2 linked regions of the Homo sapiens genome follow. The protein of the gene in region 2 interacts with the protein of the main gene of each other region in a pairwise test. Each region holds a gene or a part of one and is shown on either strand. Other genes may lie near its edges.

Region 1 (3,500 bases), on a different chromosome or scaffold from region 2:
ACTCTTGGCAGGAAACGTACAACTCTTTCTTTCTTCTTTTCTTTTCTTTTTCTCACTCTGTTACCCTGGCTAGAATGCAGTGGCACAATCATAGCTCACTGTAGCCTTGAATTCCTGCGCTCAAGTGATCTTCTGGCCTTAGAGTAGCTGGGACTACGGCTGCTGTACCACCATGAACAGCTAATTTTTTTTTTTTCTTTTAGAGATGGGGTGTTGCTATGTTGCCCAGGCTGGTCTCCAGCTCCTGGCTTTAAGCAATCCTCCCGCCTTGGCCTCCCAAACTGTTGGGATTGCAGGCATGAGCCACTTTGCCTGGCCAACAGAACACTTCTGCCGAGAGGAAGTGTGTGGTGGCCAGGAACTCAGATTCTGGAGCCAGAATGGTGCAGGCTCAAGGTCAACCCTGTGTGATCTCAGGCTTCCCTATGGAGCCTCTCCAGCCTCAGTCTCCCTTGTTTCAGTTTCCTCATCTACAAAACAATGTTAATAGTCAAATGGTGCCTATCCTATAAGGCTCTTGGGAGGATTCAGTGAGTTAATTTGAGTAATGCTTAGGATAGTGTCTATTACCACTGGCTGCTATTTATTATTTCTGTTATGAGTGATACTCTGTACTTGTACACTTTTATTTCTGTCTGTTTTAAATTAACAGCACAACAGACCATAACACTGCAGTATATTGAATTTATTTTATAATTAACATAGCATATTATAAACTAATATAGCTTAAATGTTTATGTAGGATTTCTGACATGAAATTGCATTAGATCATAGATGTTCAGAGTTGGTATATAACAGCCCCTGAGAATGTAGTAACTCAGCAGAGACCAGAAGGTCAGAGAAATGACCACTGAGTATTTTTGAAACTCTTTTGTTTTCTTCCAAATAGTGATTCTTAGGGCTCCTGAGAGGCAGATGGAACAATCATTAACATTCCACTTTATAAATCGGGAAGTTGAGACCAAGGAAAGTAGTTTGAATAAGCTCACAGTAGTTAATGAGGGGGCCAGTGCTGGACCAATTGGCCAGCACTGGTCATTGACTTATTCATCCATCATTCATTTATTCAGCCAGAATCTATTAGGTGCTTCATACATATTTGCTTAAAGTTTGTTGTGTTCATAGAGCTTTGCACACGGTAGGTACTCCATAAACATTTGTTGATGAAATAAGTGAGTTACTGAATGAATGATTGAATTAGAATGACACTGCAGTGTTAAAATGGGCTGGGTTGGGGAACATTTTAGTTTTTGTTTTTGTCTGTTTTCCAAAAATGTATGTGTTGTTCACATGAGTCTGGATAACCCTAGATTGAGATTGATGACATAAATAAATTTGTCTTCAAGGCTGCACTAAAGCTGGCTCACATGGCTAGGTATTTACAGAGCAGAAGTGGTGCAGTCCTCTCTGATTAGTTGCACGTACAGAAGACATATTCGTTATTGGACTGACCTTAGTTTCTCTTATAATTTGTTAGGGGAATTGAATCAGCCCATCTGAGAAGTTACAAGATTGTGTCTTGTCATCTTTAAAAGTTCAGCAATGTGATGTGGTACAGATGGTCTGAGGGGTTTGGAGAAGGTAGCCTAGATCCCTAGGGCCCAGAGAAGACAGGATGTGAACAGAGGAAGTACATGGATTGGTGAAGAAAAGAAATGGGATAACTCATGGGTCAAAGAAGAAATCATGATGGAAATCAGAAAATATTCAGAACCATACAATAATGAGAATATTATTTATCAAAATCTATTGGATGCAGCTAAAGCAGGACATAGGGGGAAATTTACAACCTTAGGTGCCTAGATTAGGAAAGAAGGAAGGCATTTGTTTATTTATTTGTTTATTTATTTATTTGAGATGGGGGTCTCACTGTGTCACCCAGGCTGCTGGAGTGCAGTAGCACGATCATAAATCACTGAAGTCTCGAACTTCTGGGCTGAAGTGATCCTCCCGCCTCAGCCTTCCAAGTAGGTGGGACACAGGCTAGCACCACCATACCAGGCTAATTTTTTTTTTGTAGACACAGGGTCTTGCTATGTTGAGGTCTCAAACTCCTGGGCTCAAGTAATCCTCCTCCCTCGGCTTCCCAAAGTGCTGGGATTACAGGCATGAGCCACTGCGCCCATCTAAGGCTGAATTTTAATGAGCTAAGAATTCATCTTAAGAAAGGGCTAAATAGACAGCAAAAGCAAACATTGAAGGTTGGGACTGAGCTGAGTGGGTAGCAGGGATGGGAGACAACAGATCTGAGGAGAGCAGGAGATTTTGAAAGGATTGCACTGCCTGAGGTTTAAGCCTTTAGAATCCAGCTCTCTCTGAGCTCCCTTTGAGCTCTGACATTCTGTGACTCTGATTTGGTGGCCTTCCCTTAGTGGCCTTACTGATTTCATTTGGATGGTGCTTGTGGTATATCCAACCAACATGTCTTCCCAAATGGCCTTTTAATTTCCTATAAAGAAGTAGTTGTCATTGATTGCAGGTTAGGGACAGAAAATGCTGTGGAATGAAACAAAATGCAAGTTAAAGAACTAAATTCCAAAAATACCCATTGCTACTATTGACTGAGTGAATTCCTACTGTGTGCCAGACACTGTACCCAGTCCATTCCCTGTATTGTTTTATTTAAGCCTCACAAGGGTATAGTGTGACTACACTGTTTCTTAACAATGAAGAAACTGCCCAAATCGCCCATCTGGGAAGCGGCCCAGCTAGAATTTGAATCCAGGCCTGTTTTCCTCCAGAGCTTGTGCTATTCTCTGTCTGTCATAAAATGTGGGGGCTTTGTGTGGTAAACTTGCTCAGTTGGGCATAGCAGTTGTTAGGAAACCTGAGGCTGGTAACACCAGCTGTAATACCAGCTGTCCGTCTGACTCATGCAACTGTTAAAGTTGATAGGGCTGAGGTGTCAGACTGAGCTCTGAATTGCCTGATTCCTATAACAATATTAACTTAAACATTTTTTAAATTGGGAAATGCACCATGCATACAGAAGAGTGTGTATATTTCATATGTATAGTGTAAACTGTTCCCATCACCCAGGTTAAAAAACAGGATGTTGCCAGTACCTGGGGCCTTCTTTAACTGCAACTGCTAGAGGTAAACACTGGCTTGACTTTTGTGTAAATCATCTCTTTGCCTTTCTTTAATGTTTTAGCATCTTTTAAAATAAATCCCCAAATAATGTATTGTTCTATTTTGAAAAACTGAGTAGCAAGCCAAAAATAGCTGTGTAAAGAAAGGTCACTTAAATTAGGCTGGGTGCAGTGGCTCAAGCCTTTAATCCCAGTACTTTGGGAGGCTGAGGCAGGTGGATCACAAGGTCAGGAGATCGAGACCATCCTGGCCAACATGGAGAAACCCCGTCTCTACTAAAAATACAAAAAATTAGCCAAGAATAGTGGCATGTGCCTGTAGTCCCAGCTACTCGGGAGGCTGAGGCAGGAGAATCGCTTGAACCCGGGAGGCAGATGTTGCAGTGAGCCGAGATCGCACTGCTTGAA
Region 2 (4,076 bases):
AGCATTTCTTTTTCTCCAGCAGCTAAATGTCCTTTTAGGTTATTCACTAGAGACCTCTGCAGAAACTCGTTTTTGAGATTCAAGAAGTAAATAAAGGATGTTTTTCTTTTTCTCTATTGCTTATCTTGGCCTCAAGCTCGCGCACGCAAGAAGACTCTCTCTCTCTCTCTCTCTCTATATATATATATATACTTTTTTTTTTTTTTTGAGACAGGGCCTTCCTCTGTTGCTCAGGCTGGTGAGCAGTGGTGCAATCTCAGCTCACAGTAATCTCCGACTCCCAGCTTCAAGCATTTCTCCTGCCTCAGCCTCCTGAGTAGCTGAGACTTCAGGTGCGCCACCACGCCTGGCTAATTTGTGTATTTTTAGCAGAGATGGGGTTTCGCCATGTTGCCCAGGCTGGTCTCGAACTCCTGAACTCAAGTGATCTGCCTGCCTCCAACTCCCAAATGCTGGAATCACAGGCGTGAGTCACCATGCCTGACCAATATAAACAATATTAAAACACCTGCAGCTTCCTGTCAGATCCTGATGAACAGACCCCTCTGTTCCACCAGCCGTAACTACAGCTTTGACTGGGAAAAGACTGATTCCAGGCCAGGTGTGGTGGCTCACGCCTGTCATCCCAGCACTTTGAGAGGCTGAGGCGGGTGGATCACCTGAGGTCAGGAGTTTGAGACCAGTCTAGCCAACAAGGTGAAAGCCTGCCTCTACTAAAAATACAAAAATTAGCCGGGGGTGGTGGTGTGCGCCTGTAATCACAGCTACTCGGGAGGCTGAGGGAGGAGAATCGCTTGAACCCGGGAGGCGGAGGTTGCAGTGAGCTGAGATTGCACCATTGCATCTCAGCCTGGGTGAGAGTGAGAATCTGTCTCAAAAAAAAAAAAAAAAAAAAAAAACTGATTGCAATCACTTTATCCTGGTAACTACTCACCACGGACTGGTTCTGGCCGGTTGACAGAGGCTGCAGAGTTGCTTCACCTTTTGACCTAGGGGGCCTAACCATAATGCATTTAAATGTTAAGTCTCCGCTCCAAGGTGAACTCGGGAGTAGGTAACATGCATGTTTGTTCAATACCCATGCGTCAGGACACCCTTGGTGAATATCCATAGCTCTTCCTATAACTTCTTGAATATATACACTTGGCCAACCCACTCAGCATAAATTCCCGTCTCATCTTTTCTTCCCTCCAAGTGCTTGTTTTTAGTTTTCTTTTTTTTTTTTTTTTTTTTTTTTTTGAGATGGAGTCTTGCTCTGGTGCCCAGGCTGGAGTGCAGCCTCTGCCTCCTGGGTTCCAGTGATTCTCCTGCCTCAGCCTCCCGGGTAGCTGAGATTACAGGTACATTAGCCAGAGGCTGCGCTTCTCACCTGCGGTGTATAATCACCTTCTATGAAATAAATGGCGTTTCTTCTAAGAAATACAGTGGGATTTTGGGAGGCCGAAGCGGGAGGATTGCTTGGACCCAGGAATTCCAGAGCACTCTAGGTAACATAGCAAGACCTCGTCTCTGCAAAAATAAATAAATAAATAAATAAACAAAAATTAGCCTGGCGTGATGGTGCACGCCTGTAATCCCAGCTACTGGGGAGGCTGAGGCAGGAAGTCCAACTGTGTTTGCGCCACTGCACTCCAGCCTAGGAGACAGAGCAAGACCCTGTCTCCAAAGAATTGTAAAATAAATAAAAAACGGACCAGGCGCAGTGACTCACGTCTGAAATCCCAGCACTTTGGGAGGCCAAGGCGGGAGGATCACTTGAGGTCAGGAGTTCGAGACCAGCCTGGCCCACATGGGGGAAACCCAGTCTCTACTAAAAATACAACATCAGCCAGGCGTGGTGGCACGTGCCTGTAAGTCCCAGCTCCTCGGGAGCCTGAGGCAGGAGAATCGCTTGAACCTGGGAGGCAGAGGTTGCAGTGAGCCAAGATCGCGCCATCGTACTCCAGCCTGGGCAACAGAGCAAAACTCTGTCTCAAAATTAAAACAAATTAAAATAATAAAATAAAATAAAATAGGAAGCCTTTCTACCTTTATAAATTGTGTGATTTTTAGGTTAACAACTGTCAATGACGGAATGTTCAGTACGTGGGACTTTCTTGTCTGTATGTGTGTGGTGGGGGGGGTCGGGGCGGGGAACAGACTCAATATGAAACCGTTTTGGGGTCTGACGCTCGCCCACCAGCCTCCATCGCGCAGCCACACGCCCACTATGCGACCAGAGCCACCTGCGCAGTTGTTAGCAGAAGGAAGAGTAACTTACTACTCTCGTCCCTGCGGATCTACGGGTGCCTCGAACGTGGGGCGCGTTCCTGGGGCTGGAGGCGGCGCCCAGGGGCAGCGCAGGGCCCGGCCCGGGGGTTCCCGGGGGTTCGAGCCCGCTGGGCCGGGGGGCGGCGAGCGGGGCTGTGGGCCAGGCCCCGGGCTGCTCCCCGTCCCCCGGGGTCGGCTGGTCCCGCCCGGGCGCCTTGATCCGGCGCAGGCAGTCCTGCAGCATCCGCTGCGTGCTGGCCTCGCTGAGCCAGTACAGGAACAGCTCGTCCACCTTCATCTTCAGGACCGGCTGCAGCACTTTGCCGGGCGGCATGGCGGGGGCTGGGCCCGCGGCGCCCCCGGACGCCCGCGCCCCGCCCCGCCCCGGGGGCTTCGGTCCGCCCCGGACCGACCTCGGTGATGCGAGCACGGCCCGCTGAGGGGGCGCGGCGCAGGGAACAGGGCCCGCGCCTCGGGAACTGCGCGGACTCGCGGGGCGCGGGGACCGAGGAGGGGGCGCGGTCCGGCCCGCGCTGCTCAGGGCAGCTTCAAAACGGGCGCGCCGGCCGCGCTCCCAAACAAGGGCGCCCGCGTTCACGTCACTGCGTCGCGTCATCGCGACGATGTCATCACGAGGCGACGCCGCCGCTAGCCACGCGCGCCCCGCGGCCCTCGGAGCTTTTGCAGGAGGCTTTGGTGGGGCCGAGCGGCTGCGGTGAGGACGAGGGAGGGGCTGTGGCGGCCGTACCGCCCGAGCTCTTTCTGCGTTTAGGATTTTTAGAGGCGCGGCCCATGGCGGCGTGGCAGTCCTAGAGCTGCGGAAATGCGAGCATGCGCAATGCGTGCCTGCCAGAGCGAGGAGAGGGTGGAACCTCCGCATGGAGCATGCGCCGTGCATAGCGGTGGAGGAGCGGAGTTCGGGAGGCCGGTCGGGTGAGCGTGCGCAATGGCTGCCCGCGGGGCGCAAGCCAGAGGCTGGGAGGTGTGTGAGCGGGTGGGGCTGGAGGACGGGAGTGCGCCTGCGCAGTGGGAGGCACCGGGAACGAGCGAGCATGCGGGGTGCGCGCCCGCCGAGCTCGGGAGCGAGCGTGCGTCCTACGGGAGCGCGCGAGGAAAAGATCAAACTTTTCAATAACAGCGGGCTACCTGGGACCCAAAGGGCCCCGTTTACTTTAGCTTTGCTTATCAAACAGTAGAGACAGGTTGGAGGAGTTGGACCCCTTTAAACGTTGGTGTTCAGGGATGAGCGTGAAGTGCGTTGAAAATTGCAAAAATCATCCACGTCCAGGGAGGTGACATTAGTTAAATAACTTTACCCAATGGTCGTTTTTGTTTCTGCTTTTAACAGTATCCATAAAAACACTGCATTATCATCTGTCTGGCACACATGCACCTGTTTCCTTTACATCTTGCCCCGCTTTTTATTCATTTTTTATCAAAATAGGGTTTCACCTGGTGTTGCACCCTGTTAGAGAGTAATTTCAAGGTCTTTTATGAGCCAGGTTCTCCTACTTCTGAGCTGCATAAATCGAGCCAGACTCAATAAGTAACCCTTGGCCGGGCGCGGTGGCTCAAGTCTGTAATCCCGGCACTTTGGGAGGCTGAAGCGGGCAGATCACGAAGTCAGGAGTTCGAGACCAGCCTGGCCAGCATAGTGAAACCGCCCCCACCATCTCTACTAAAAATAGAAAAATTAGCCGGGCATAGTAGCGTGTGCCTGTAGTCCCAGCTACTCGGGAGGCTGTGGCGGGAGAATTGCTTGAACCCAGGAGGTGGAGGTTGCAGTGAGCTGAGATCACACCATTGCACTCCAGCCTGGGCGACAG

What was found. The genes of interacting proteins can lie anywhere in the genome.
Region 1: the proteins of PPP2R3B (region 2) and NOD2 interact in binary tests that used the Homo sapiens proteins (3 or more experiments, as listed by UniProt).

What each region holds. Positions count from the first base shown.
Region 1 is NC_000016.10:50,700,106-50,703,605, forward strand, and holds part of NOD2 (nucleotide-binding oligomerization domain-containing protein 2), read left to right. Parts: intron 1-3,500. UniProt on the Homo sapiens protein: Pattern recognition receptor (PRR) that detects bacterial peptidoglycan fragments and other danger signals and plays an important role in gastrointestinal immunity.
Region 2 is NC_000023.11:384,108-388,183, forward strand, and holds the start of PPP2R3B (serine/threonine-protein phosphatase 2A regulatory subunit B'' subunit beta), read right to left. Parts: upstream 2,801-4,076; 5' UTR 2,585-2,800; coding exon 2,261-2,584; intron 999-2,260; exon of another isoform or gene 935-998; intron 1-934. UniProt on the Homo sapiens protein: The B regulatory subunit might modulate substrate selectivity and catalytic activity, and might also direct the localization of the catalytic enzyme to a particular subcellular compartment.